Linked DNA regions of Homo sapiens. The protein of the gene in region 1 interacts with the protein of each later gene in a pairwise test. Each region holds a gene or a part of one and is shown on either strand. Other genes may lie near its edges. The genes, in order: RRP7A and CDCA7L.

The links.
Region 2: the proteins of RRP7A (region 1) and CDCA7L interact in binary tests that used the Homo sapiens proteins (3 or more experiments, as listed by UniProt).

The regions. Positions count from the first base shown.
Region 1 is NC_000022.11:42,514,637-42,530,477, reverse strand, and holds the start of RRP7A (ribosomal RNA-processing protein 7 homolog A), read left to right. Parts: upstream 1-10,681; 5' UTR 10,682-10,691; coding exon 10,692-10,764; intron 10,765-11,124; exon of another isoform or gene 11,125-12,062; intron 12,063-12,330; coding exon 12,331-12,473; intron 12,474-14,341; coding exon 14,342-14,467; intron 14,468-15,209; coding exon 15,210-15,327; intron 15,328-15,698; coding exon 15,699-15,796; intron 15,797-15,841. UniProt on the Homo sapiens protein: Nucleolar protein that is involved in ribosomal RNA (rRNA) processing. Also plays a role in primary cilia resorption, and cell cycle progression in neurogenesis and neocortex development.
Region 2 is NC_000007.14:21,900,900-21,916,299, forward strand, and holds part of CDCA7L (cell division cycle-associated 7-like protein), read right to left. Parts: intron 10,856-15,400; coding exon 10,718-10,855; intron 7,609-10,717; coding exon 7,231-7,608; intron 5,741-7,230; coding exon 5,669-5,740; intron 5,558-5,668; coding exon 5,390-5,557; intron 4,733-5,389; coding exon 4,607-4,732; intron 3,361-4,606; coding exon 3,211-3,360; intron 2,216-3,210; coding exon 2,079-2,215; intron 1,454-2,078; coding exon 1,423-1,453; 3' UTR 356-1,422; coding exon of another isoform or gene 108-355; 3' UTR 1-107. Other genes in the region: DNAH11 (dynein axonemal heavy chain 11), read left to right, coding at 108-355. UniProt on the Homo sapiens protein: Plays a role in transcriptional regulation as a repressor that inhibits monoamine oxidase A (MAOA) activity and gene expression by binding to the promoter.

The DNA.
Region 1 (15,841 bases):
CCCACAAGACCTGAGCCACACTCCCAAAACTGATCCCAAGCCCAGGTTATTTTGAGTCTCTCCTTCTCCTTCTTCTCCTTCTCCTCCTTCTCCTTCTCCTTCTCCTCCTCCTCCTCCTCCTCCTCCTTCCTCTTCTTCTTCTTCTTTCTTCTTCCAGGGTCTCACTGTGTTGCCCAGGCTGGAGTGCAATGGTGTGATCTTGGCTCACTGCAGCCTCCACCTCCCAGGTTCAAGCGAATCTTCTGCCTCAGCCTCTCCAGTAGCTGGGACTACAGACATGCACCACCATGCCCCACCAATTTTTGTATTTTTAGTAGAGATGGTGTTTCACCATGTTGGCCAGGCTGGTCTTGAACTCCTGACCTCAAGGGATCCATCCACCTCAGCCTCCCAAAGTGCTGGGATTACAGGAGTGAGCCACCGTGCCTAGCCTATTTTGTGTTTGCTTCTGACCAACCAGCCGTAAATTGGGGTTCCCACAGCCCTCTCTTTGGGTTCAATTCACTTGCTAGAGAGGCTCAGAACTCAGGGGAACACTTACTCAGGTTTACCATGTAGGGGTGAAGGGAAAACTTCCCCTTCGCCCTCTGAAGGTTCACGGAAAATCAACTCTCAAAAGGCAGATGAATAGGAGAAAGGGATGCGCATTTATTTGATTATAGTTTTACCTGTCACAGGAGACTTCGGAATGAAGACCCAAAGATACAGGGGAAATTGTCCATTTTCATGCTGAGGTTCAACACAGTATGGGCAGCTGTGGAGACATAGGATTGGACAAAAATGATCTGATCTAATGCTAGCAGATGGAGTGGGGAACCCAGCAGGGCCTGTCTGGCTAGATTCCTCCTGGCCTCTCTGAGCTGAGTTCCTTCCTTCTGAGTGTGGGGAGGACAGTCTCTGGAATGCGGGTCTTATTATTTTTTGAGACAGTCTTGCTCTGTGGCCCAGACTGGAGTGCAGTGGCGTGATCTCGGCTCATTGCAACCTCCGCCTCCCGGGTTCAAGCGATTCTCCTGCCTCAGCCTCCTGAGTAGCTGGGATTACAGGTGCATGCCACCACGCCTGGCTAATTTTTGTGGTTTTAGTAGAGATGGGGTTTCATCATGTTGGCCTGGCTGGTCTTGAACTCCTGACCTCAGGTCTACCCACCTAAGCCTCCCAAAGTGTTGGGATTACAGGCGTGAGCCACGGCGCCTGGCCTGGAATGGGGGTCTTATGGTCTACAGTCAAACAAAGTAGGCCAGAGAATTTCTTTATGGCCAGTTTTTGCACAGATAGGGCAGAGGGGAAGTTAGAGTCATATTTTAGGTTGTATGGCTGGTTTGGGGGAAAGGGGTTCTGGTTTCTATGACTCACCCTGAGGAAGAGAGATTCTAGTTTCTATGGCCAGCCTCAGGGCAGAATGAGGGGCCACAGACAGGAGGGCAAGAGAAGGTCAGAGAAACTCCTTCGCATGGATGACACAGACCCCCATCTCCAGGCCTGAAAGCACCAGGACTAGGAGGAAAAGCAGCCCCCACTCAAGAAGGTGGCAGCGGGGCACAGATGAGAACAATGCTGCAAAATTTGTGTCTACCCTTGGAGCAGACCAGACCAGATACAGAGTTTCAGCTGACGGGAGCCGGTCCCTGGCTGGTGCTACCCTCCTCCCCACCCTGGCCTGGAGTCCTGCAGCATGCCCCAGAAACAGTGCCAGCAGCCAGGCCGGAGGAAGTGGTGCCCAGCCGTGCAGACACGGCTGGCTGGAGGGAGCCCTGGACATTATGACTGTCATGGGGCCTTCGTCCACTAAAAAAAAAAAAAAAAAAAAGTAAAAATTGTATATTATGCCTGCATGGCTAAAAAGATGAAAATAACCAGGCTGGGCTGCTTATAAATCAGTTACATGTTTTTTTCTGGTTTTAATAGAAATTAAGACGTTTTTGTGGGCCCACAGTGCCCCTCAGGCACAGTGCCTGCTGAGCCGAATGTGGATGTGGGCTCTGCCTCTGGGGTTAGTGTCAGGAAACTCCTGCTTCTTCCCTTGCAGGATCAGCAAGGGGTCACTCTGGCTTTCCTCATGGCAAAGAAACTTCCCATGGGCACCTGCACACACCCCAGGCCTCCTCCCTGCCAAGGCAGGGATTCCTGTGCCACCTGCTGGGGAGGGCAGCCCAGCAAATGAGCCAGCTGCATGGGTGGGAGTTGGTGACTGTTCTTCGTTTTCTGCAATGGTTCATTTTTTGTGTCAACCTGTTGGAGCCATGAGGTGCCCAGTATTTGGTTCAACATGATTCTGGGTCTGTCTGTGAAGGTGTTTCCAGAAGAGATAAGCATTTGCATCAGTAGACTGAGTAAAACAGATGGCCCTCCCCAGTGTGGATGCGCCTTGTCCAATCCATTGAAAGCCTGATGGGAACAAAAGACAGAGTGTGGTGACGCATGCCAGTAGTCCCGACCACGCAGGAGGCTGAGGCAGGAGGATCGCTTGAACCCAGGAGTTGCAGACCAGCCTGGGCAACGTGGCGAGACCTCATCTCTACAAAAACATAAAAAAAAAAAAAATTGAGACGTGGCACACTTGTAGTCCCAGCTACTCAGGAGGCTGAGGCAAGAGGATCATTTGAGCCTGGGATATCGAGGCTACAGTGAGCCACGTTCACACCACTGCACTCTAGCCTGGACTACAGGGCAAAAGTCTGTCTCTTAAAAAAAAAAAAAAAAGGCCCGGTGTGGTGGCTCACTCCTGTAATCCCAGCACTTTGGGAGGCCAAGGCGGGTGGATCACCTGAGGTCAGGAGTTCAAGACCAGCCTGGCCAACATGGTGAAACCACGTCTCTACTAAAAATACAAAAATTAGCCGGGCATGGTGGCAGGCATCTGTAATTCCAGCTACTCAGGAGGCTGAGGCAGGGAGAATTGCTTGAACCCGGGAGGCGGAGGTTGCAGTGAGCCCATATTGCACCACTGCACTCCAGCGGTATACTCTGGGTGCCATCACTTAGCTCCTCGGACCTCCTCAGTATCCTAATCACCCTCAGCAGATGGCCTGGAGATTGGCTTCTTAGTTTTAAATTCTAGGACCATCTACAAGCTTGCTTTTGGTAAGTCACTACAGACAAATACCAGTTAAAGCACTCAGGAAGATTCAAGCTCCAGTGAAATACTATGCATTGCCTAAAGCATATTCCTGGGTGAAAGAGCAAGACTCCTTCTCAAAAAAAAAGAAAAGAAAAGAAAAAGAAAAAGTAAGATAGAATTCACTCCATCTGCCTGACTGTGAGCTGAGCTGGGATACTGGTCTTCTCCTGCCTTTGAACTTGGACTTGGACTGCAATGACACTGTCGGCTCTCCTGGTTTTCTTTTGCTTGCTGACTGTAGATCCTGGGACTTCTCAGCCTGAGCTCAGCCAGGGCTGCATTTAGGCAGAAGTAGGGCTCAGGGTAATTAGATGGGGCAGATGGGGCTCCTCATCTATTTTGGGGCAAGTCAAGCTAAGACACCTCCTTGAGAATGGCTCTGCAGAGAACTGCCTGACCCCAGGCAGTAAGAGGTGAAGCTGCCACGCCTTCTCCTAATTCAGGAGCAGAGTCTTTGCCTTTAGAAATTCCCTCTGCTGGGCCGGGCGCGGTGGCTCACGCCTGTAATCCCAGCACTTTGGGAGGCTGAGGCGGGTGGATCACGAGGTCAGGAGATCGAGACCATCTTGGCTAACATGGTGAAAACCCGTCGCTACTAAAAATACAAAAATAAATTAGCCGGGGGTGATGGTGGGGGCCTGTAGTCCCAGCTACTCAGGAGGCTGAGGCAGGAGAATGGCATGAACCTGGGAGGCGGATCTTGCAGTGAGCCAAGATCGCACCACTGCACCCCAGCCTGGCTGACAGAACAAAATCTTGTCTCAAAAAAAAAAAAAAGAAATTCCCTCTGCAGTTATGTTAAGGGTGGGATGGAAGTAAGTATAAACTTCCATGCAAAGCAAACAAATAGGATATAATAAGGATTTGGGGCTGGGCTGAGTGGCTCAAACCTGTAATATTAGCACTTTAGGAAGCCAAGGTAGGAGGATTGGTTGAGCCTGGAAGTTTGAGACTAGCCTGGGCAACACAGTGAGACCCCATCTCTTAAAAAAAGAAAGAAGACTTTTTAAAAGTGTTACTAGGCCATTACTGTTGATTCCCCATTATTCGGGATTCGATCATCCAGTCTGAGGATCACTGAAGCCTTTTCTAGGCTGTTTTGATTCATCTTTTGTGTGTGTGTGTGTGTGTGTGTGTGTGTCTGTGTGAGACAGAGTCTCGCTCTGTTGCCCAGGCTGGAGTATGGTGGCGTGATCTCAGGCCACTGTAACCTCCGCCTCCTGAGTTCAAGAGATTCTCCTGCCCCAGACTCTTGAGTAGCTAGGATTATAGGTGCGCGCCACCACGCCTAGCTACTTTTTATATTTTTAGTAGAGACAGGGTTTCACCATGTTGGCCAGGATGGTCTCGATCTCTCGACCTCGTGATCTGCCCGCCTCGGCCTCCCAAAATGCTGGGATTACGGGTGTGAGCCACCATGCCTGGCCTTGACTCATCTTTTCATTCTTTCACTAATCTTGGCATTTCCTAATATTAATGAAAATAAAAGGAAATGAGAGTGAAACAACAGGTTTACTTTCCTCTATTAGCTTCTGAGGGAAAAGGAACGGACAAGAGCAGGTTGGGCGACCAGCTGGCATTTGCCCCTCTGTCAGGTGACCTCGACATCCCCGCATTGCAGAAAGGACCCTGAGAGCTGACCTTACCTGTGTGCGTCTCCCCAACGAAAACTCTTAGCAAGTCTGACTTACAGACCACTAGAAACCCGATCGGGACCCAGAAACCCCACTCCCAGGTATTCACCCAAGAGAAGTGAAAACTTCCATTCATACAAACACCTGTGCGTGAATGTTACAGCAGCTTATTCATAATCGTCGAAACCTGGAAATCGCCCACATCCTTTACTTGGTGAATAGATAAATAGACCACACTCCATCCAGACAGTGGAACATTTCTCAGCAATGAAAAGGAACCATACAACAATGTGGGTGAACCTCAAATCACGATGCTCAGTGAAAGAACCTGGACTCGCACGATTCCACTTTCAGGACTCGCTGGAAAAGCAACGGGAGAACAGAGCAGTGGTTGCCAGCGGCAGCACGGGAGTTCTGGGAGTGACGGGATGTTCCCTATCTTGACTGTGGTCATGGTGATAGGACTCTATGCATTTGAACTATATACCAAAAGAAGTGAATTTTACTGTGTGGACATTTGAAAGTATTTTTTAACCATTAAAAAAGAAAAATTGAGGCTGGGCACAGTGGCTTATGCCTGTAATACCAGCACTTTGGGAGGCCGAGGCGGGCGGATCACAAGGTCAAGAGATCGAGACCATCATGGCCAACATGGTGAAACCCTGTCTCTACTAAAAATACAAAAAGTAGCCGGGCGTGGTGGCGGGTGCCTGTAGTCCCAGCTACTCAGGAGGCTGAGGCAGGAGAATGGTGTGAACCCGGGAGGCGGAGCTTGCAGTGAGCCGAGATCACACCATTGCACTCCAGCCTGGGTGACAGAGTGAGACTCCATCTCAAAAAAAAAAAAAAGTGACTTCAATTTTTCCTTCTCCTCCTCTTGGCTTGTAAAAGGGTTACCCCTGCGTGGCTTCAGAGTGTTTAAAATCGCTTACCTCCTCTTGAGGAGGTTTAACATTCTTTCCTTTTTTGAGACAGAGTCTTGTTCTGTCACCCAGGCTGGAGTGCAATGGCTTAATCTCGGCCCACTGCCACCTCCACCTCCCGGGTTCAAGGGATTCTCTTGCCTCAGCCTCCCAAGTAGCTGGGATTACAGGTGTGCATCACCACACTCAGCCAATTTTTGTATTTTTGGTAGAGACGGGGTTTCATCATGTTGCCCAGTCTGGTCTCAAACTCCTGGACTGAAACGATCCACCCACCTCAGCCTCCCAAAGTGCTGAGATTACAAGTGTGAGCCACTGCGCCAGGCCTCAATATTCTTTCTAATAAGCTCACTTGGGTTCTTATTCAGTGTATTCCTTTTCCCAGGCTGCTGTAACAAAATAATATAAACTGGGTGGCTTAAGACAACAGAAATTGATTTCTGGAGGTGAGAAGTCCAACACCAAGGTGTCGGCAGGGCTGTGCTCCCTCTGAAGGTTCTAGGGAAGAATCCTCCCTCACTTCCTCCGGCGTCCAGTGGCCACAGGCATCCCTTGGCTTATAGCCTCACCACTGCCATCTCTGCCTCCATCTTCCTATGGCCCTCTTTCCTGTGTGTGTCTCCTAGGCATCTTATAAGGACACCAGCCATTGGACAAAGAGCCCACCCTAAATCCAAGATGATTTTATCTTGAGTTGAAAGGACCTGATTACATTTGCAAAGACCCTGTTTCCATATTCAGGTCACATTCACAGGAATGGAAGAGTGGTGGGGGAAGGGAGAGGTTAATACTTGAACATGGCTGGGCGCGGTGGCTCACGCCTGTAATCCTAGCACTTTGGGAGGCTGAGGCGGGCAGATCACGAGGTCAGGAGATCGAGACCATCCTGGCTAACACGTGAAACCCCCGTCTCTACTAAAAATACAAAAATTAGGCCGGGCGCGGTGGCTCACGCCTGTAATTCCAGCACTTTGGGAGGCCAAGGCAGGTGGATCACGAGGTCAGGAGATCGAGATCATCCTGGCTAACATGGTGAAACCCCGTCTCTACTAAAAATACAAAAAATTAGCCAGGCGTGGTGGTGGGCGCCTGTAGTCCCAGCTACTCAGGAGGCTGAGGCAGGAGAATTGCGTGAACCCGGGAGGCGGAGCTCTCAGTGAGCCGAGATCGCGCCACTGCACTTCAGCCTGGGCAACAGAGCAAGACTCCATCTCAAAAAAAAAAAAAAAAATACAAAAATTAGCCAGGCGTGGTGGCGCACGCCTGTAGTCCCAGCTACTCGGGAGGCTGAGGCAGGAGAATCACTTGAACCCGGGAGGTGGAGGCTGCAGCAAGCCAAGATCGCCCACTGCACACCAGCCCGGGAGACAGTGTGAGACTTCATCTCAAAAAAAACATACTTCAACATGTCTCTTGGGGAGCACAATTCAACCTCTATATTCGGTAAGACTCTCTTAGACAGGGCAGGGCAACCTGGCCCTGCACTCCTTGGCCATCCTCTGCTGTCACCCCCAGACCTCAGGCACGGCGGCCCCTCGCTCTCCCCCGTCTTTTCTCTCCGGGCCTCTGAAGTCACCAGTTCTCCATGCCCAGCCGTGGCCTGTGGGAGGGAGCTGGGGGGGTGAGCTGGAGCTGCCACTTAGCGGCAGAGTCGCAAACTCACCGTTCCTAATGAAGCCCGTCGCTTCTCCCTCCTCCTCCTCCCAGCAAGCAGGAAAAAAAAAAAAAGTTGACTACTGAGACCACATGCTAGGAAATCCATGGGTGGGTGCTCTAGTTGACAAGTCCCACTTGAGCCCAGCCATATTCGGCCATTCTTGCACTGCTATGAAGAAATACCTGAGACTGGGGAATTTATAAAGCCAAGACGTTGAATTGGTTCTGCAGGCTGTACGGGAAGCATGGCTGCATCTGCTTCTGGGGAGGCCTCAGGGAGCTTTGACTCATGGTGGAAGGCGAAGTGTGAGGGGTCACTTCACATGGTGAAAGCCTGACCAACAAAGTGGGGGGTGAAGCAGCCACCCATTTTTAAACAAACAGATCTCGCGAGAACTCGCGATCGCAAAGACGCAAAGACGGCGCCAAGCCATGAGGCCCCCATGATCCAAACACTTCCCACCAGGCCCCACCTCTAGCACTGGGGATTACAATTTAACATGCGATTTGGGCGGAGACAAATACTCAAACTCTATCACCAGCCATCCCTGCTGAGATGCCGGACTCATCTGCTGAGATGCTGCGATGTGAGTGAAGTGACTTGGAACCTTTAGTGCAGCCCATATGCCAGCTGAATACCATCAAATGCCCTCAGTCAGTGCCACAGGGAGAAACAAAATCTCCTAGCAGAGCATTGCCCAAATTCCTGACCCATGAAATACATGGGCAGTGGTAATTATAAAGAAAGTGGAGTTAATTGATCGAGTGGCATCAGTGGGCTGAAGGAAGAAAACAACAGGCCTCAGGACAGCCATTTATCAACTTATAGCCCAAGGTGAAAATCAGGAGGGGCTTCCAGAGACGTGTTTAAAGACAGGTCACATTGTGCTGATAAAGGCCTAGAACCTGATGAGAACTGTGGAGTTTGAATCAGGGCAGATGAACGGCTGTGCTAAGTGCTGTGCTCCAGTCAAGGAGCACAGAAGTGAAGGAGCGGACACTGTCACCTAGGGCAGGGAACGTCTGGATAGATGGGCTCAAGAGTCTTGAATTCTAGGCTGGGTGCAGTGGCTCACACCTGTAATCTCAGCACTTTGGGAGGCCGAGGTGGGCAGATCATCTGAGGTCAGGAGATCAAGACCAGCCTGGCCAACATGGTAAACCCTGTCTCTACTAAAAATACAAAAAAGTAGCTGGGTGTGGTGGCACATGCCTGTAATCCCAGCTACTTGGGAGGCTGAGGCAGGAGAATTGCTTGAACCCGGGAGGTGGAGGTTGCAGTAAGCTGAGATGGCAGCACTGCACTCCAGCCTGGGTGTCAGCAGAGTGAGACTCCGTCTCAAAAAAAAAAAAAAAAAAAAAAAAAAAAGGCTTATGCCTGTAATCCCAGCACTTTGGGAAGCCGAGGTGGGCGGATCACAAGGCCAAGAGATCGAGACTATCCTGGCCAATATGGCGAAGCTCTGTGTCTATCAAAAATAAGAAATTTAGCTGGTCATGGTGGTGCACACCTGTAATCCCAGCTACTCAGGAGGCTGATGCAGGAGAATTGCTTGAACCCAGGAGGCGGAGGTTGCAGTGAGCGGAGATCGCGCCACTGCACTCCAGCCTGGCGACACAGCGAGACTCCATCTCAAAAAAAAAAAAAAAAAAGTGATGTTGTGTGGCCAGTCCTGATATCCATCGAGATGGCTCCTTGAAGCGTGGAAGCAATACATGAGAGGGAGATAACAGAACGATGGTGGCAGGGCACTGAGAAGGAGCCAAAGGCCTCGGGGAGGGGGATGTGCAGGCACAGATTTATTATGCAACATCTGAGAAGCCAGATGACCGTATTTCTGGAGGGTTCACCAGAGACTGCTTTGACTAGTGGGGGGTCTAGGCATCAATGGGCAATCGGCATGGCCGTCCTCTGAGGCCAGGGTAGAAGAGGGCAAATAGGACTGGAGCCGGGCTCGGAAAGGTCAGCAGGAGATAGGATTCCAGAGAGCAGAGGTTCGGTTGATGTGACTGTCAGAACAGGAGCAAGGCCAGAGTGGCTGCCAGGGATCCTGGGCGCACAGGAGTCTCTGGTGAATGCTAGTAGACCACGGTATTCCCAGGGGCCACGGAAGCCCCAACACTGCTTGACTGCGCTAAGCAAAGAAAGATCAAAAACAAAAAACGAGCGAACAGGACAGTAATGGCAGCTGCTGATGGAAAATCCCAACCCCTCATCCAGTTTCCAGGCCTAAGCTAGGCCTCAGAACCAGAGGTCACTGACTGAAAGGGAGGCTGGGTCCCCTCCAGACCACAAATATTTGCAGTAGTAGGCTCCTAATCTTTCCCCAAAGGGGCCGACAGCATTTCCAAGAAGCAACTGTACACTGGGAAAAGAGAAATAGTAGATACATCAAGGGCTGGCGGGTACACAGTCTGAGAGGCCCTTTGGAGTCCAGAAAAGTGGAGTCCTTGGACTTCATTTCTCCCCTATCTACACTTGCTCCCTTGGCGATCACACCCTCTCATAACTTTCTTTTTTTTTCTCTTTCTTTTTTTTTTGAGACAGAGTCTCGCTCTGTTGCCCAGGCTGGATTGCAGTGGGGCGATCTTGGCTAACTGCAATCTCCGCCTCCTGGGTTCAAGCGATTCTCCTGCCTCAGCCTCCCGAGTAGCTGGAATTACAGGCATGCACTACCACGCCCGGCTACTTTTTGTACCTAGTAGACACGGGGTTTCACCATGTTGGCCAGGCTGGTCTGGAACTCCTGACCTCAAGTGATCCGCCCCCCTCGGCCTCCCAAATTGCTGGGATTACAGGCATGAATCACCGCACCCGGCTCCTCTCGTAACTGTCAATAACCTATCCATGGCCAGTCCCGTGTGTATTGCTCCAGGCCTGACATCTCTGATGTTCAGTCTGTTCAGTCTCATATCTAAGTGCCCACCTGACATGTCCCCTGAGTGGCCTAATGGGCATCTCACCACGGCTCACAGAGAACTGATCTACTCCATTTTCACCCCCAAGCAGGCCCCTCTCCTGCAGTCTTCCCATCTCAGTCAATGGCAACACCATCCTCTTAGTTGCTCAGACTGAAAACCTAGCAGCCATCCTGGATTTCTCTCACACTGCCTATTCAACGTGTGAATGCATGAGTGGAAAGCTGAGTTCGCACTCGTGACTGGCCGGGGTCAACTCTGACATTCGCTCCCACTTTCGCGCGCTGATTTATCTCTGAGCGGATGAAGGTTGGGCCATGGCGGGCGGGGCCGGGGAGGCGGGCTTGGAGTGAGGGGGCGGGGCAGGCGCCACGAAAACGCGCTCGCGCCGGCGCCGAACCGCAACTCCCGGCGGCCCCCGCGCTCCCGGGTGGCAAGATGGTGGCGCGCAGGAGGAAGTGCGCCGCGCGGGACCCGGAGGACCGTATCCCCAGCCCACTGGGCTACGCAGGTGAGGGGCTCCGGGACGCGAGACCGGGGGCGGTCAGGCATCGCCGGGAGGTGTTTGGGGGTTGGCGACGGCCGGGGGTCCCCAGGAGCGGCCGCACGGTTGGGTGTGAGCCCCGGTGGCCCGTGGCCCCAGGCTCCGCAGGTCTTGAGGCTCCGGGGTCCCGAGGACCCAGGCGGCGCCCTTCTGCCTGCTCACTCTCCCGGGGCGAGCCCAACTTGGTCCACGCTTCCCTTGGGTGAGCCCGCCTCTGTCCACACTCTCACCCAGGACAAACCCATTTCCGTCCACACCCGCTCGTCCAGGTGAGCCCATCCCCTTCTCATCGCCTCTGCTCCTAGTCCATCCCCCATCAGCTCTTACCTGGGCTGTTATAGGCCCTCCTACTCGGTTGCCCTCCTTCTCCTCTTGCCCCTGCTTCTGTTCTCCACCCACGTGCCAGAATGTTCTTTTAAGGACATTTAGATTCGATCATGTCTGCCGCGCCCACGATAGGCGCCACACCTACTGCATTCCCTCCAGTGGCTTTATCAGGTAGCTTCTAAAACAAAAACCAGACTTCTTAACCTGTGTGGGCCACGTGGTCTGGCTGGTGCCGACCTAAAGCTCTTTCTGTTCCTCTGAGGGAACATGCTTTTTCCCCCCTCTGGGTTTTTGCACGTGCTGTGCCGGTTTGTTGCACAGTGGCGTTCTGGCCTGAGCTTTAATGTTGCTTCCTCAAAGAGGCCATCCGTGATGGCCTATGGAAAGAAGACCTCTGCCACCCCATCACCCTGTAATGTTTCTTTCACAATTGATACAAGTTTGCTGTATGCTTGTTAATTGTCTTCTCCGTTATTGCAACTGAGCTTCCTGAGTTCAGGGACCGCAGCTCTACGCCAACCGGTACTGTGACGGAGGTGTGAGAAAAATAGAAGCAGTTCCTAGCTTTATGAGGATTACAGTCATGGGTGTGCCAGCGATTAACCAAAGAATCTCATCAATATAGCCTCCAGACTGTTAAGAGAAGCTGTGAAGGCACAGGCAGTGGGATCTGAGCTGGCAGGAGGGGCGGAGGTGATGCTAAGGCTCTCCTGAGGAAGCGAGGTTTGAGCTAAACCTGAGGTGAGCGGGAGGGAAGAGGGTGACACGCCAGGTAGAGAGGCCAGCATGTGTGAGGCCCTGGTGTACCCGGGGGAACAGAGAATCCAAGGTGCTGGGGGAAGATGGTACGAGAAGAGGTCACAGTGACAGGCAGGGTCTCACGGGGCTTCCAGCCATGGTTAGGATTTTGGCGTTGACTCCAAGAGCCGCAGGGTTCGAGCTTCCCTCTCATTGCGCCCCCATCTGTAATCATTGCCCATTTATCTTCTCTCTCCCTGCACCGCCTTGGGAGGCCCTCCTGGGCAGACTCTTAGAGCCCGCACAGGCTTTGCCAAAGAGTAGGGTAAGGGGGGTTGGTGAAGGGATGGATGGATCGATGAACAGATAGGACTAGACAGGGATGTGGAGAAAGGAAGTTGTGTGAGTGTCTCGCTGGCCTCAGCTCAGGGTAGCCTGGCCATCCCTCCCCTCCCATTTCCTTTCCAGCTATTCCAATCAAGTTCTCTGAAAAGCAACAGGCTTCTCACTACCTCTATGTGAGAGCACACGGCGTTCGACAAGGCACCAAGTCCACCTGGCCTCAGAAGAGGACTCTTTTTGTCCTCAATGTGCCCCCATACTGCACAGAGGTGAGCTAGTGTCTGTCTGGGAGGAGACCTGTGGGCTCAAGGTGGGGGCTCCCATGGCCTCCACCAAGTCCTTGGTGGTGAGACGGACACAGCTAATGGGAGCCCCAGAGGAGAGTGTCAGGAGGGCTACCGTGATCTCCAGTCAGGAAACTGGCTTTTTAAAGATGTCTTTAAAAGTATAATCCTGCCAGGCACGGTGGCTCATGCCTGTAATCCCAGCACTTTGGGAGGCTGAGGCGGGCGGATCACCTGAAGGGAGGAGTTCCAGACCAGCCTAGCCAACATGGTGAAATCCCGTCTCTACTAAAAAATAAAAAATGAGCCAGGCATGATGGCATGTGTGGGTAGTCCTGGCTACTAGGGAAGCTGAGGCATGAGAATCCCTTGAACCCGGGAGGTGTAGGTTGCAGTGAGCCAAGATCGCGCCACTGCACTCCAGCCTGGGCAACAGAGTGAGACTCTGACTCAAAAAAAAGAGAAAAAAGTACAATCCTAAGTAGCCCAAGGCATTTTTACATATTACCCAAAGTTGTCTGAATTACGTGTTTTCTTCCAGATTGTACATGTCCATAATTTAAAAGTAGGAAAGTATAAGAAAATAAAAAGTGCCTCTAATTCTATCCAAACACAACTGTTAATTTTTTTTTTTTTTTTTTTTTTTTACAAAAACTAAGCTAAGGGAATTGCTGGATTTATTTATTTATTTATTTATTTAATTTATTTATTTATTTTGAGACAGAGTCTCCCTCTGTTGCTCAGGCTGGAGCACAGCGTTCACAACTCACTGCAACCTCCGCTTCCCGGGTTCAAGTGATTCTCCTGCCGCAGCCTCCCAAGCAGCTGGAATTACAGGCGCCCACCACCATGCCCGGCTCATTTTTGTATTGTTAGTATAGACAAGGTTTCACCATGTTGGCCAGGCTGGTCTCGAACTGCTGACCTGAAGTAATCCGCCCCCTTCAGCCTCCCAACGTGCTGGGATTACATGCGTGAGCCACCGCCCCTGGCCAAGGGAATTGCTGGATTTGTTTTCAAAAAAGAAACCCTAATTTGTAAAAGATTCCTCTAAACTTAGAGAAAAAAAGAAGCATGTAGAAGAGGGGGTGTGAGTTCTGACCTTTTTTGAAGTGCAGCATGTGTGCCTGGAAGGGCCCCAGTGGCAAGTGTCCAGCTCGCTGCATCCCAGAGACAGAACATAGCTGTGTAGTCAGCGCCCAGGTGGAGACACAGCAGCACATCCCAGAACCCCCGCTGCCTCCACCACAGACAACCACCATCCCAACTGTCATAGCATAGGGTCACTACTGCTGATTCAGGTAGTAAAACTTGTCATAGGAAATCAGAATAACAGCAAGAATGTCCCCACCTGTCTCCAGTGAGAGAGCAGGAATATGCCGGGCACAGTGGCTCACGCCTGTAATCCCAGCATTTTGGGAGGCCGAGGCGGGCGGATCACCTGAGGTCAGGAGTTCAAGACCAGCCTGGCCAACGTGGCAGAACCCTGTCTCTTCTCAAAATACAAAAATTAGCCACGTGTGGTGGTGGTGGGCGCTTGTAATCCCAGCTGCTCGGGAGACTGAGGCATGAGAATCACTTGCAACCCGAAGGTGGAGGTTGCAGGACTCCAGCCTGGGCTACAGAGCAATACTCCAACTCAAAAAAAAAAAAGAGCAGGAATATCAACCTCCATATTGTCCCTGGGGAACAGGTCGGAGGCCATGGTGCCCACAGTCTCCCGGCTTGGGCAGATGTGGCTGTGGCTGAGTCCTTCAGCGGCGCTGGACCCCTGGCAGCGCCACCCATGGTGCAGGGAGGCTTTGGGATGGCCCTGCGGATGCTCACACTTGGCTTCCCTCTCCCTGCGGCAGGAGAGCCTGTCCCGCCTCCTGTCCACCTGTGGCCTCGTCCAGTCTGTAGAGTTGCAGGAGAAGCCGGACCTGGCTGAGAGCCCAAAGGAGTCAAGGTCGAAGTTTTTTCATCCCAAGCCAGTTCCGGTGAGCCGCCAAGCCCGGGGTTCCACTAGAGTGAGGGGGGTGGGGCACTGTCCCCAGTGTGTTGGGGGAGCTGGCAGTGGGACATCAGAGCATTCTCTGGTCCTGAGCCCATCCTCACCGTGTGTGGTGTAAGAGACTGTCTGGGTGACAAAGCCTGCGATTCTTTGCCAGATTTGCCACATCCTTGCACTTCCTGCCTGGCTTTTTCTGTCCCGTGTTAAAGCTCACGGACCGTCTCTGCTGGCCACCTGCAGGGCCTTCCCCGGCTCCCCTCCTGCTTCCCCACTGAGGGAGCTCCTTCCCCAGGCTTGGGGGCCGGGTCTCCAGGAGCACTGTTGTTCACAGCTTTCCCAGTGGCCCTGGAGCCCACACCTCCTCCCCACACAGTGGCATCTGGCATGGTGTGTGCGCCCAGGCCTGGCTTCCAAAAACCTGCCCTGGCCCAGGGCGACCCCTGTGTTTCACCGCATCCCTCCCGTGACTGGAAGAAAAGAAGCCTCTGTATCCCCTCTTCCTGGGGAGGAGTTGGGAACAGCCGTCACTTCCCGCAGAAGCAGGATTACTGGAAGTGTGGCTGCCTCTGACCTGGATTATGGGATGGCCTGTGGTTCTCTTCATGGCTCAGGAATAGCCTAGCACCATCTCCCCTGGTGTAGCTACCACCTAGGCTGAGGGCAGGCCTGGAGACCTTGTGCCAGACGTGGGAAGGAGCCCCCAACCTCTGACATCTCTCTCTCTTCAGGGTTTCCAGGTAGCCTATGTGGTGTTCCAGAAGCCAAGTGGGGTGTCAGCGGCCTTGGCCCTGAAGGGCCCCCTGCTGGTGTCCACAGAGAGCCACCCTGTGAAGAGTGGCATTCACAGTTAGTACTGCGGGAGGGGTCTGGCGCCTCCTTTCTGGGCTCCGGGTTGGCAGGACACTCTATGGGGACAGTGTCTGAATGTCACAAGCCAAGTCCATGCTCCCTGAGAGCAGCATGTGGAGGCCTGGGCAGGAGGACCATGGGGCTGTGTCTGGGTCCCCAGGGAGTCATTAGCCTGAGCCCCTGGCACAGAGCGGCACAGGCATACTGGGCAGGCAGAGCGAGGGCGCAGCTTGCAGCCCCTGGGATCTCCTTAGCACCTGTGCCCCGGGCCCTGTGGGAAAAGGTCCCAATTTGCCTGGCAGGCCCTGGGGTGGGGCCCAAATGCCAGGCCTGAGGAAGCCCCGTTTCCCTGGCTCCCTTTTCCTCAGAGTGGATCAGTGACTACGCAGACTCTGTGCCCGACCCTGAGGCCCTGAGGGTGGAAGTGGACACGTTCATGGAGGCATATGACCAGAAGATCGCTGAGGTAGAGGCCCCGCGGGGTCGGCCGAGCCCCGCATCGCCCGTGTGG
Region 2 (15,400 bases), on another chromosome or scaffold:
ATGACAAAACCAGAATGTTGAATGTTTATTGCATCAAACAACTTACTTGATCATTATCATTAGTAGCAAGCTGCCACACAATTGCAACCGCTGTGTTTTTGCCATAGGCGCCCGCTGGGACACCCAAGCAGGAACCATTGTTGAAGCCCGTCTCAAGGAGCTGGCATGCCCTATGCCGGTCATCTTTGCAAAAGCCACCCCCGTGGACAGACAAGAAACCAAACAGACCTACGAGTGCCCTGTGTATAGAACCAAACTGAGAGGCCCCAGCTACATCTGGACCTTCAGGCTGAAGAGCGAAGAGAAGACTGCAAAATGGGTTCTGGCTGGAGTGGCTCTGCTTCTAGAAGCGTAAGGTAACACTGGCATTCCTCTAGCCTCTGCTGGAGTGCAGTGAGGATTTTCTAGCATGTTGCTGCACTGTTCCCATGCACATTATTCTAACTTTTTAGTAACTCACACGTGCATTCTTTTTTCAACGCTATCCTTAGAGTGAAAGTCAGAAAAAAATACTAGAAACTAACTCAGGGCTGAGCGTGGTGGCACACGACTGTAATCCCAGTTACTCAGGAGGTAGGAGAATCACTTGAACCTAGGAGGCAAAGGTTGCAGTGAGCCGAGGTTGCACCACTGCACTCCCTCCTGGGCAACAGAACAAGACTCCATCTCAAAAAAAAAAAAGTACATCATAAAAGTACATCATATGTGAACATGCAAAAGCAATGCAGCCGGAAAGAACGGAGATTTTAATTTTTAACAAACAACAAATTAAATTATTAGCCCTTAAACTCTTTCAAAATATAAAAGCAGCAGGCCCCAGGTGAGTCCTGAAGGAAGAGGCTAGCACTCTGTAAGGCCTCCAGTGTCCAGTGTCTACAATGTTGATGGTCCCCTTTTGTTCAGTCAAGTTTTAATAAAAATAAAACTGTTCTACAGTTAATTGCACTTTGTTCAGTGTAAATTTCCAATGACCAAGAGCAGGTTAAACGATGTGTGTGGTCTATTAAACTGTGGTCACTCGTGCTAAGGCACACTTGGCCTGGAGTGAGTTACTGTTTGGGAAGCCAAAGATAGATAGATCAAGTGCAGGAGCTGATCATACAATGTTTTCTCTCTAACTTACTTACCTGAACTTTAACCCCACCCCATTTAAACTGTGCTTTTTAATAACTGGCAGATATTTTTAACAAAGTTCAGCATACAGACAGGTCTGTGCATACATCTATATAGATTCCTCTGCTCTGCTGTCTTCCTGAGAAATCTTTGTAAGCATATAAACAATCTTTAACAAAAAATAGTAATTTCTACAAAGAATTTCTGTATAAAAACACAACTGTAAAAAAATCTTTCTTAGGCACCAATGGTATGCATGTCTTGTTGGAGTACTCTATGGTGAGGTGGCTGGTTCTGTTTGTTTTCCTCTTAATTGTCTTCTACCAGCTCCTTTTGTAAGCTGGGAAAAAGATGAGAAGTATTTGGTAAAGTAGTACAAATACACAAATGGCATTCTAGGCTTGAGAGATTCCACAATCATCTAAGAGTACAAAGCCAGAACCCAGATCTCCTGACACTCGAAATCCTGACAATTTATGCATCAATATCCGTATACCCTCTGGTGTAGTACGCCCCAAGCATGACTTGCCTCACTCCCGCATTCCAGAACCACGATTCAGAGTTTATTAATTACATAAATGAAACTTGTAACTCACATTCTGTCCTCTTGCCCTGAACTCTCTCTCTGCACTAGGATTATGGCTGCCTCTTCATAATCTGTGTCTTTCCCCTCAGCCTGCCTTGTTTGTTTGTTCCTTCCATTTCTGTCATACACCTCAAGGAGAAATTTTGGTTAAAGGCAACGTGGAGTTGAGTTGAAAAATCTAGCAAAGGAGAAGATTCCCTAATAGGGAAAATATCAGGCCTGAGCTTTTCCAATGCAAACAGATACAGAATGGATGGTACTCGTGGTTTATATAAGTAAGTAAGTCACACGGGAAGGCAACAACTACTTGCCCAGAGGGTCTCCTGTGCTCAGCCTCAAGATTTCAAGCTGTTTTGTAAGCTGCTAGAGACTTACTTACCTCTCCAGATATTCCTTAACATTGTCATAACCATAAAACTTGGCCAGATGAATGAGGATTCCTGTGGCACAGCGGCCGTCACGCTTCCGACAGTAGCTGCAATTGCAGATCCCACGACAGGGGGGACACACCCAATCCTAACAGAGAGATGACAGCAGACACTTCGCTCATTATCTACAGGGTCTGGCAAGAACTGGGATTCGGATCCAGAATGGCTCAGCTGGCCTCTCCTCCAACCTTTAATCACATGGCATCTTTCAGTCTACGTCCCAGGGGGCTCCTCACAAGGCAGGAAGGCTGAATCACCCCACGTCACATGCAAACACTGAAAAATGACACCTTTTAGGGCTCCTTGCTTAAAAATTATGGAGATTTTCACAAGCATTTGGCCAAGCACAGGGCCCTGTGCGAGCATGCAGGTCACAGGCCCAGGATGTCAGCCCTGGTTTAGGAGCACAAGGTTTCCAAAATATCAAGGTATGAATTTCAGCCCTTTCAATGTGTGCTTATTGTTGAATGACTAACCTGAGCAGCAGTTTGTTTGTCTGTCAGTTGAGGACCATATATTTACCCCATGACTGCTGCCTAAGAGGTCACACTCGGGAGCAGGACTGCCCCAGGCTCAAGGTCGTGCCTACTCACCATGATACTATGTCTCATTTTACCGAGGGAGCTGAGAGAGGTTATACACCTATTTCATGGGATTAAACAAATTTATGGTAACAGAGTGAGCGACAGCTTGCACAGTGCCAGGCACACAGAGAGCACTCTATACTGCAATCTCCACCTCCCTCTCAGCCTGGCCCAGGAAAAACAAAACAAATCAGAGGGAAATCACTTTGCTGAAGGACAGGTACAGGGATTACTTGCATAAAACTAGAGGACTGTAAGCAAGTTTTGCTCTGACAATGGAAAATCTAACAACATTAATTCTTCTATTCACTGGTCAGCTTGCTCTCCTTCCAGAAGGAATCCCTATTTTTCATTTTCCCTGGAGCCTTAAGATACAAATGGAAGGGAAAAACCAGAGTTCTGGAGCTCCCTAGTTCCCAGTGAGAACCCAGGAGGCCCATCTTTATAGCTTGCTTCCTTCACCAATACAATTTACAACAAATGCAAACACTGTTCCTACCGGGTCCAGCAATGCCGATCTGACATCCTCCCCATAGCGGTTCCGCAGGCATGGTCCACAGAACTGTCCTCGCACACCACAGCAACCCTGGTTCCGACACACTGTCTTGGTGTCGATGGTCTTTTGTCGACACTGATGGCACGTGTTACCCTACAGGGGGAAGGCAGTGAGCAGGTGAACACAGGGATATGCTGATGCCCAATGAGGCCAGATGCCACCATGTGCATTTCCAAGTATATGAAGAAATACCCCCGTCTCCTCGAATCAAGCAGGACTGTTTTCCTAAGAACCACAGCATTGTCTCTAGACCGGGGTCCCCAGCCCCCAGGCTAGAACCAGTCTGTGGCCTGTTTGGAACCGGGCTGCACAGCAGGAAGTGAGCAGCGGACGGGCGAGCATTACCGCCTGAGCTCTGCCTCCTGTCAGATCAGCAGCAGCATTAGATTCTCATAGGAGCACAAACCCTCTATTGTGAATTGCACATGTGAGGGATCTAGGTTGTGCACCCTTTATAAGAATCTAATGCCCGATGATCTGAGGTGGAACAGTTTCATCCTGAAACCATCCCCTTCCTGCCCCCCAAATCCATGGAAAAACTGTCTTTCACAAAACCAGTCCCTGGTGCCAAAAAGGTTGGGGACCACTGCTCTAGAATGTAACCATCACAGGTCTGTGGCCAGAGAAACATATTAGGTCAGATGAGGCTGAGCAGAGACCCAGAAGGAATGAAATGATCAGGCTGTCAGGAAGAGAGACCAGAGAAAAGCTTGAGGCAGGGGTGGCAGAGCCCCTGAAAGGTGACAGGTGACTGAGGGGCAATGAGCCTTGGGTGGCATCACCTCGGCCCCAGCCTAGCTCTGCAGACCTGGATACCTTCAATGTGAGATCTATTTTTTTTTAAATATTGGCAACTAAATTTAAAACTTGACAGTGTCCCGTTACATATCCAGAAAAACACAAAAAAAATGCAGAACGCAAAGCCTCCCTCTAAATCACCATTTAGAAGAAATTTAACCCATTTCCTACCAAAGATATTCTGCCAAACTTTAATTTCTATGGTTATATTACCCCCCAAATATACTTTTTTCAATATTTAGAACATAAAACTATATGCTTAAACCATTAACAGTTACATATAAAAATCCCTTTTAAACTATACCGTTCCCTTCCCCCAGATTCTACGCATCCCTAAGAGAGACCGCCGTCCAGATGGGAATTACTGCACTAGGCTGCCTCCCCTTTCCCAGGTACAGCTGACTTTTGACCCTCCAATTCAGAGCCTGGCTCTGAGCCCTTGGTGAGATGGCATAAGCCCTGATAGAGTTTAAAAACAAGTGAGATTTCAATACCAATGCCTTCGACTCCCAATAAGAATGACAATTAATGTATACTTTACCAGAACTTTATCATAGATTTTATCTCGAACAGTTATGGCAACATTTTCTAAGTCCTCTTCGGTGATATCCTCCACTGGCCGAAAAGAAGATATACGGTGACGTCGTCTGTACTCCCGGCATTTCCCCTGCACAATGAACACAAGCAGAACATGGAGATGTGTTGAGCAGTTATAAAAAAATTATAAATATTTTAAACTCTCAAAGATCTAGCACCATTAATGTTAACCCCGTCCCTCTTCTATTTCCCTGCAGCCATTTCATTTAGTTATTTACTGAGCTCCTGCCACCTGCCAAGCTTCCTTCTCAGCAAGGCGATACAATCATAAAGGAGGAACTCAAGGTTTTTGGTTCTTTGCTGTAAACTCTGTGGAGAGGTGAACCACACTGAACAGCCAAACCCACAAATGGGTCCACAGTTGCTCCCTCCAAACTGAAAGCGCTTGAAACGCCTCATGCCTAAAACAGAAAGGCAAGGAGGAATCACTGCACTTTTCTTTATTGCCTGCAGCAGAGATTAAAGCAGGGTCCTAACAAATGAGCTGCTTCTCAGCTCGGCTTGGATAAAAGACTCTCTCTGTGACCTCCAGCTTAGACCAGGGCTGCTTCTCAAAGTGTGATCTCAGGAGCAATGGCATCACCTGGGAAGCAGAGAGAAATGCAAGTTCTCAGCTGCCGCAGACCCACGGGGTCAGAACCAGCCCTGGGGTGACAGTGACGTGCGTTCACGTTTGGAGGGATGGTAGCTCAGACAAAAACTAATTCATGTATTAGTCAGAAAATACCCCAATTGTCTTCCTTCTTCGGAAGCTGTAAAACTCTTCCGCAAATTTAGCGGCTGAGACAGTGAAGTTCTCTAGAGCAAACTTCTCAGGAGGCCGCGCACTCCGGGTTGGGTTCATACGCCGCGTGATCTGTCCCTCCGAGAAGGCCCGCCTCACTGTCTTCTTCCTCTGAAATCAAGAGCACAGACAGAGACAACTGGGGACTCTCTCGAATAAAAGCCGTCTGGTGGCTGATCACCATATATCAGTATTGGTATAATTATAAGGAGTTCTACTTACAGAAGCTGAGGTTGGGGTTCGTACTGGGAAGAAATCTGGCATCGAGTTCAATTCCGCCAATAACTGGGCAAGCTGAAGTTCAGAACAAAAGAAAGAATCTTACAAAAATAGGGCTCCAGGTTTAGGTCATCCAACACCTATCTCAAGTCTTCCATTTTGCCACCATAAGAAACCTAACTTGAATAGTTTATATAACCCACAACAGTTATACTTTTAACCTCACATGTAAAGATTGTACCTCCAGACCTGAGATGCTGATGTCATCATTCATATGAATGAACACTAGCCTATTCCTTATATATAAGGACAACACAACACTATGAAAACAGTCCTGGAATGATCAAGACCTGGAGCATGAGGTTCCGATCCCGACTCGGAGGCTAATCCAAGGCGGTGTGACCCTGGGACAATTCATTTTGCACACGTGAGTCTCAAGTTTCAGGATGTTCAAAAAAGAAAAAGCTCAACTAGATTATTTCGATGGTTATTTAGAACTCCAAAAGTCTGATTCTTTAAATAGATTAATTTCTCATCAATCAAAGTAATCTATGAAGATATTCCTACGTGAACTAATAATACCAAATAATAGGCATTAATATGCCAGAGAATTTAATTAGGATTCGTTTTAGTTTATACAATTATATGAGTGCCACCAAAAAAATCATAAAGAAAATAGCTTATTTTAAAGATGCAGATGGATACAGTGCTGAAAATTTCCCTTAGCTAAGTAAAAATGTTTCTTAGGATAAAAATAATCCGAAAGTAGGCATTCCATTTTTGTAAGTAATTTATATTAGACATATAAGCTTGCATATACAGTATCACTGCATCATTCTTTTTTTAAAAGGAAAAGATTAAAAAATTACCAAAATGCTAAAAGGGATAAGTGGTAGAACTATTTAAAAAAAAACTGTAGATAAACAATTATGAAGCAAACAATGATTCTCTACAATGATCAGATTAACAGTAATTGATTATATACAGAAAAACCAAATATATGTAACAAAGATTTCACCTGGTTCCATTCATTGTTCTAATGAAGACAATGTAGAGTGAATTAACACTGTTGAGGTTGTTTTAATTCCTAGACCTCTTCCATTCCTTCAGAAGTCTCAGAACCAGTGCTGGTCACCATAGAAGAGTGGTTCTGTGGTGAAAAGCTACCTGCCCAACCTGCTCCTTGCAACTTCTCAGTGGACTTGGTGACATCCCACTTCCCCTGCTTTACTCTGCTGGGAACGGGCTAGTTGTTCAGCCCCTCTCATCCCCAACACAACTATATACTTAGAACTTAGCTTGGTCAACAGTAAGCAGCATTATGGCACCATGTAGGGGCTAAAAATGGTGCTGGGGAATCTCTTTCTGTTCCCAAACCAGAGCTGATCATGTAATAGTTGCTCTGGGTTCTGGAAAAGTAAAAGGATACACAATACCCAGAGTATATTTTCTTGACAGAAGCCAAAGCAACAGCAGCAGCTGTAGGAGCAAAGTGGTTCTGGGAGCCCAGCAACTGCTGCCAGAGCCTGGTGCCAACTCCCAGGACGCCCTCCGTGAAGCCTCACCATGGCTTTGTTCTCCTTGATGTTCATGGTCCTTTTCAGCAAAGCATCTGAACTCTCCTGGCTCTCATCCCGAGAGTCATCCTCAGACTCAGAGGTAGAATCTTCCCTTTGTATCACCTGTCTACAGTCTTTCTTTCTTTCAAGAATTGTTTTTTTCTCATTCTGTAAGCGTGCGCTAGAAAACAACTGCTCGGAAGAACTGTTTTTATCTGGTTTGTTGGCCAGCTTCTTGGTGGGGAACTGAAAGGCTACTCGAAGACCAATACTACTTCTTCTAGACCTGCTTCTTCTAGGGGTAGCCTTATCTTCTTCTTCATCTTCCTCTTCCTCGCTCACCAAAGATGCTTTGCCATCATCACTCAAATCTGACTCCACGACCTAATAAAATAAGAGCAAGAAAAAGCACAAAGACACTGTTACAGACCCACAAAAAAGACATGCATTTAAAACAACTGACAGCATTATGAGAAAAAACATGAAAAATGAAAAGCTTCCCCTTCATATTATGAGTTCCCTCTGAATTTCCTTTAAATGTGCAAGAAATTGGTTGATGAATAAAATCAGAGAGCAGGCAACCTACTACTGAACTGTGCACCATCATACCCGCGACAGAAATGGGTTCCATTCAGAGCATGAGGGCTGTAAGCAAAACACTGACAGGGTGGGTTCCTCCACCGTGGGACAACCAGGGAGCACCAGCAAGAGGAGAGACAGTCACAGAAAAGGAGAGACAGCAGCATGACAGATGTGATCTTCAGACAGGAAAGGACGCAACGGGGGAAAAATGCTGACTGGTCTCCTCTAAATAGCAGGAACCAGACTCCTGAATAACAGGGCGGGAGAGCTGACTGCACCTCAGGGCAGTGACCCAGGACAGGCAGATGACCTGCCACTGCGTCCTCAGTCAAGGGGCACCTTTCCCTTCTCTGGAACCCTCAGAGCCATGAGGTGAAACCAGGTCACAAAGCTCTACAGGTTGTAGCAAAACACCACTCAGTCAACTCAAGAAATCCTCACCCGACATTTTCAAATTCCACATGGCAGAGGTCTCCAGCATTCAAACATTGCTCTGTTTTACAAGTGAGAACACAGTAAATATGGAAGGCAGTAACAGGGATACATCACCTAGGTGACAGCTTGGATGTGACGGGACTCTTAGCAGTGGTACAGAGACAGGTTTAAGTATGTAAGATCTAGGACGTCTTCTGGGCATCCTTCCATGACCAGAAGCTAGAAAACTTTGGGAACCATTATCTGGGAATTCTGAAAATCTACCAAGAACACGGAATGGCACCGATACGGACCCAGGATCAGTTCAGGGACTCTGCTTCCTCCCCGGTGACGACCATCAACCCCAAACTCTCGTTGGACTAAAGTTAGAAATAAGACACAGGGAGAAAAAAAACGCAGATAACTGCCAACCCTGGTATATCCACACCAAGCCAAGTGAGGAGTAAGACTATATGGCACTGATTTATCTATTTTTTAATACCCTGAACTTCCCATATTAATAGCTTCAGAATTCAAAATGGTGTACTGCAAAGGAACCCAATTTCAGGGGACACTGTCAGGGAAGAACTTCAGTTTTGATCCATTTATCTACCATCCTCATCATCGACAGGCCTCTCTTTACCAGATGTGGAACAGCTCACTACAGAGGCCTGAAGGAAGGAAAGAACAAATGGTACACAGCAGCCCAGAATCAGACCCAAGAGAAGAGCACAAGTGTAGTACATGGATGTGGTTATTTCGCATCCGGCCAGCAGACCCCTGGAAACCAAGTTACAGCAATGTCCCATTATCAAGAAAGATAGGTTCGCCAGTTCCCACAGGGGTGGGCAGGAGGGTGGGCTGGGAGGCAACAATGCTTTTCTTCTCACTGGATTCTAAAATAAAATTTGCAAGGGCCTGTGCTGAACTGTAAGCTATATCATGATCTATGTAACTACATCACACAGTCCATAGACTTGGGGGCAGGTGGGAGGGAAGACTTCTGGGGTAATTCACTTTCTCTCACTAGAAATGCAAATGCTTCGAATAACCAGACATCACTTCACTAAAGAACAGAAAATAAGTACATTGCTAACTGATGATGCCCATTAGGGTTTTAGAAGCATCTTAATATCGTGCTGGCAAGAAGCTAGGGACTTGCTGGCCAGAACTGATGGAACTGCCACACAAACAGCTTCTGCAAAGAAAGCCAAAGGAGACCTGGGGCCTCCAGGCTGGCACAGCTCTATGTTGCTACTCATAGCAAAAAATCACTATCAAACGAAGCAGCCTACCATGCGGGCTTTTATGCTCTACATTCTCTCCTAGGACAAGTGAGGGACATGGCAGGCTAGGAGTCACGGCTTATTTATACCTCTACACAGTCTCTGCCAAAAGTTAGTCTTTAGCAGCTTCTGGCTGTGAAGAGGCGTAAACTCTACGTTCCATCTTCATACTGAAGAAGATAGTAGCATGTTTATTTTTTGCATAAATGTATGCTATTTTTAGCAGAAAACATTTCTGCACTTAAATCCGAAGGCTGTGCCTTAAAGTTACCTTCAGGTTCAAACACGAGTGGGCAGTAAACTAGCCTAACTGTGCAGGATAAAACAAACAAATAACTAACAAGTCTGTTCATAGGAAGTGCTGAGAGTAGACTTCCCTCCAGAATCCAGGCAGGCCTGGGTCATCTTTAACACTAAAAAGCATGACAAATCCAAATCCACAATGCATGGGGAACACCAAGTTTGTACCACAGCCAAATTTTTGCCAAATTAACTTCAAACCAAAAACTGTCACTTCACACACAGTAAGAAAGTATCTCAAGAAAGTTGTCATCTAAGATAAACTTTTAGATAAAAGAGGTTTAAGGAACTCTTGAGATAATTTTTTTTTTTTTTTTTTTTTTTTTTTTTTTTTTTTTTTTTGAGATGGAGTCTCGCTCTGTCACCCAGGCTGGAGTGCAGTGGCTCAATCTCAGCTCACTGCAACCTCTGCCTCCCGGCTTCAAGAAATCCTCCTGCCTCCGCCTCCCGAGTAGCTTGGATTACAGGTGCCCGCCACCACGCCCGGCTAATTTTTGTATTTTGAGGAGAGATGGGGTTTCACCATATCGGTGAGGCTGGTCTTGAACTCCTGACCTCAGGTCCACCCGCCTCGGCCTCCCAAAGTGCTGGGATTACAGGTATGAGCCACCGTGCCTGGCCAAGAGAGATAAATTCTTTGAGAAGGACAATAAAGGACGCCTGGGACACATCCCCAAAAACCCCCTAAGGCACGAGGAGAAGATGAATGGATTTTCTCTAAGAGAATAATGGACTGGTGGACCAGGGATTAGCCTTCCAGGAGCAATTTTTTTAGGTTATGTTAATTGCTTGTAAGATAAATATGTAAGAAAAATCTTTTCACTTGTGAAGTGACTGCTTACAAGTAAAACTCTTTCAGAAACAGGATTAAAAACGTTACCACCCACATCCCTTCCTGTTGTAATTATTACCATTACTTCTGGGTTAGTCTTTCCATTCAGATCACTCTGCGTAAATCCTGCAAAATCCTCAGTCTCTGAGTCAGTGTCCTCTATAAAAATTCTTCTTAGCTCTTCTGTGAAGTATTTGGAATGAAAGCGCACATCCTGCTAAATTAAAGACACACATACATCAGAGACGGAAAGTAGAATAGAGGTTACCAGGGAAGGGTAGAATGAGGAGCTACTGAACGGGTACAGAGCTTCTGATGGAGATGACGAAAATGGATGGACAACAATGTGAATGTACTTAATGCACTGAACTGTACACATCAAAAACAGCTGAAATGATATACTTCATGTTATGTGTATTTTACCACAAAAAAAAAAAAACACTGGCCGGGTACAGTGGCTCACCCTGTAATCCCAGCACTTTGGGAGACCGAGGCAGGCAGATCACTTGAACTCAGGAGTTCAAGACCAGCCTGAGCAACATAGTGAGACCTCATCTCTGCAAAAAATACAAAAATTAGCTGGGTCTGGTGGCATGTACCTGTAGTCCCAGCTACTTGGGAGGCTAAGGTGGGAGGATTACCCAACCCTGGGAGGTCGAGGCTGCAGTGAGCTGCACACCAATGCACTCCAGCCTGCGTTGCAGCCAAGATCACACCATTGCACTCCAGCCGGGTGACAGAGTGAGACCCTCTCTCAAAAAAACCCGCATACGTACACGTATATATTACATATATACACATTTTCTAAAGCTTACAAAATTCAGACCTACAAGACAGACAATTTTTAAAAATTGGGTGTAGTCTCAATCAGCTTCTAATGTGACTGGTAAGTGCTCATGGAATTCAGCTTCTCCTGCCAAAGCTGGCAACCAGACACGTCTGCTTTCACATAGAACCAAAACACATGGAAAGAAGATATGAGGAGAAAACCTGGCTCCCTCCCACGTGTTGGCTTCCCTTTCCAACAGCCTTTCAAAGCCGGAGTCTCCTCCAAGTGGGTGAGCATGCCTCCCATTCACCAACAGCGAGCTTCTCTGTAGGAAAAGGCTGGGGCCTCTCTCAGCCCCCACCGCCCACCACCAGAGAGCCTAGACTTGCTCCATGAGCAGACACCATGGGGGCCTGATGGAAAGCTCATTCAAGGTCACCCCCAGGAATTTCTCTCGTGCAGGAGGTGAGAGGTGAACAACCATGGCTAGGTGGCAAGTGAGCAGAAGGAAAGATGCAATGTGACTCTTTAAGAAAAGGCATTTTCTAATACTTTTTCTTTTGAAATAGTGCAAAGATGGAAACCCAACTCTCTTAATAGTATACTTGAAAGAAAGAGGAAATAACAAACTGCAGGCCAAAGGGAGACCCACGAGACCAGCCCCCTGCAAGCCCGCCACACCTCATCAAGACTAGAGTCTGTCCCCAGTTTCCTCTGACGTCTCTTCCCCCCATCTCTGATATAGCAATGACCCCTTGTAACACCACACTTGGCGGGGAATCTGTATCTACCCCACTGCGTTTCCCCGCCTTTAATTATATACTTCTTTGAGCTCATATATCTCTGGGGAAAGATAGATATAATAGACAAGTGGAAAAACTTACAGGGGCACACAGAAAGAAATGCCTACATCTAGCATTCTGTAAGCTTAAAAATGTCTCCTATGAATTATTATGGGTAATTGGAGTGAGTTTGCTCAGAGCTGAATTACTTTGTTCCTTTGTTGATAGCTGTAGTGCAGCTGCTTGAGAAAAAAAATTGCACACACAAAAGGGAAGTTTCTTTAAAGTGAAATTCAAATCGTGTTTAAGGGAGACCAGAGTTAGCATACACATACTGTGTGCAAGTTCATGCAGCTTCTCTCTATTGGTTAAAATGGATCATGAGCCTGTGGGGTCGGGGTAGAGAAGCAGCCAGGGCTTGATTATTAAGGAAGAATGGTACACAGCTGCTGCTAAGGAAACCCACCATGCACCTGAGGCCTCTCAGTGCAAGAAACATCTGGCTCACAGAGCCTTGGGCCAGCCCCTGCAGGCTAATTTAGAGTGGTATTTCTGTGTGCAAATTTCATCAACTACCTAAAGCCCCTGCCTAGGGCCTGAAGGGAACAGGGCAAGCCTTGAAGCTATGAGTTCCCATCTTCCAGTTTTTCTGGCTATTTTGATCCTGTGTGCTGGCCTCCCAGGGCAATGGGCATCTTGGGAGAGATTACCATCTTTGATGGTCAGTCCTGATAGAGAAAAACAACTTACCATTGTCCTGAACTGAGGCCTGTGCTTTAGTTTCCTTACTCCAAAGTGTGTAAGTACTGTTTTCCATGTGGGTCTGTATGATGCCAATCTCCACTCCACACTGCTCCACTGCATTCTGAGTTAGAAACCCTGGCACTGCTGATTGCTCTCTGGCACTGGTTCATTCATCTTCAAAATCAATACTGGGTGCTATGCTATAGGCCTTGGTCATCTACCATGATCAGGACCATAAGCAAATAACACATCAGAGGAGAAGCTAACATAGGTGGATAAACTTATTTTGAAGTCCATGTGACATGGAAGAAACAGACCAGAGAGCAATGGCCTGTTGAACCAGACAGCCAGACAAGCACCCCATTTCAACTGCACCCAGCAAACAACACCCCCCGTGCTCACTGTATACAGTCAGGTGGGGTGTTGGATGCTTGAAATCAGAGGAAAGGAACAATACATGAGGACGAAAAGTCAGAGCCAGGGAAGCTAGAAAGCACCATTCAAGTATGAGGTCTCCCCTTCTTAAGGAGTTTATAATCTAACAGGGAGGCAGACAGGTCCACGAATAACCCTGGTGAGGGTCAGTGCTCTAAGGGATACAAAGCAATATGGCACACGGAGGGAAAGAAAATCCAGTAAGACTTCATGGAAGAAGTAGCATAACTGGATGTGAGCCACGGTAGAGGCTAGAAAAATGGTGAGAGCACAGATAGGCAGGAACAGCATGGACCAGTGGGCAGAAAGGGCAGAACAGTGGATAATGAGAGTGTCAGTTCAGTTCCTGTGCCCTGCAGCATAGCAGGTAGGAAAGAGACCCGGCGGGGTAAGAGGCTGAGAAGTGGTGGCCCTGGATTTGGAACATCCCAGCTTGGTACTTCCCAGATGTGGGGCCTTGGGCAAGTCATTACACCTTCCTGAACGTCAGTTTCATCACTTGCAAAACTGCAGCTTCCCAGGGAGGTCTGTGGATTAAATGCAGTATCTGTATGAAAAGCAGTTGGCACACTGTCCTCCCTGGGGAGAACACACCTGACTACAAAAGGAGTCATCATAGCAGCAGAAGCAGCTGTTCTGTTTCTTAATGCCCGGTGCCTGCCAGGCTCTGTGCTCGGCCCTTTAGACATGTTCTGCCTTGCTCAAATGCTCCTCAAGGTGGATCCAACAGGCTCTGCTCTCCCCACCGCCTGACTGTGCTCAGATGGAGGGCTAAGGGAGGAGCTGACCGGAGGTCAATCCTATAACAGATCCTAGTAGGAAGGGATGAGCATTCGGGTAAGAGCTACGAGGGCTACGGCAGCTGCAGAGGGAAGGGAAGGATGGACACCAGGAACACAGCAGAAGTTTCATCAACTCCTGGACGGGAGTCAAGGAGATGGAAGAGGGGAGGGAAGGCCAAGAACAAAAGATGGAAATCAAGATGGGGAAAGGGGGAAGCCAGAAAGACAACCAAGGGAAGGAGAAGTGAGTTTCAGATCTCCCTTAGCAACCAGGACCAGTCCAACTGGTAGTCAGAAACCACCTGGGGCTGGAGAGAGAAGACAAGCTCCACAAAAGAATACAGTAACAGCTCAAAGCAGGACAACAGACAAGATTCACTAAGTGAGAAGACTGAAGACAAACCCTTAGAGAACATCTGCATTTAGGGACACGAACAGGGAAAACAAGTGACAGTAACAAAAAGCAGGCCAGGTACAGTGGCTCACGCCTCTAATTCCAGCACTTTCGGAGGCCAAGGCGGGCAGATCACCTGAGGTCGGGAGTTTGAGACCAGCCTGGCCAATATGGCAAAACCCCATCACTACTAAAAAAAAAAAAAAAAAAAAAAAACACACACACACACACAAATTAGCCAGGCGTGGTGGTGGGAGCCTGTAATCCCAGCTACTCGGGAGGCTGAGGCTGGGAAAATTGCTTGAACCCGGGAGGCAGAAGTTGCAGTGAGCCAAGATCATGCCACTGCACTCCAGCCTGGGTGACACAATGATACTCCATCTTGGAAAGAAAGAAAATAATAATAACAAAGAGCAAAAGGTGTAACAGAGAGGAAGAAACCCAGGTGGTTAGAAGGAGGTCTACTGGTGGGGTCAACTGCTGTGGAGATGCCAAATGAGATGAGGACGACAGAGACCAGGGAGCCTCCAGAGATCTCAGAAAGCACAGCTCCCACCAGGCCAGAACTTACAGTGGCCCACGTAATTAAGCAGGCACTTCACTTACATATAATTAACTGCTTCCCTTCCTGGACTTGCCCAGTGGAAGCAAAGTGGGTTTAATTTGCTGCCTTTTTGGAGAGGCCATGGTCAAGGCAGAATGAGGAATTTTGAGTGCCACAATTAACTCAGAAGAAAATGCCACTGAAGGGTAGAGATTTTGGCCATTCTACTACTAGGACACAATGTGAACCTCCAGGAATCTACCTGTCAGAGAACTCTAACTTGTGAGTGCTAGAGATCAAAGTAATTAACGC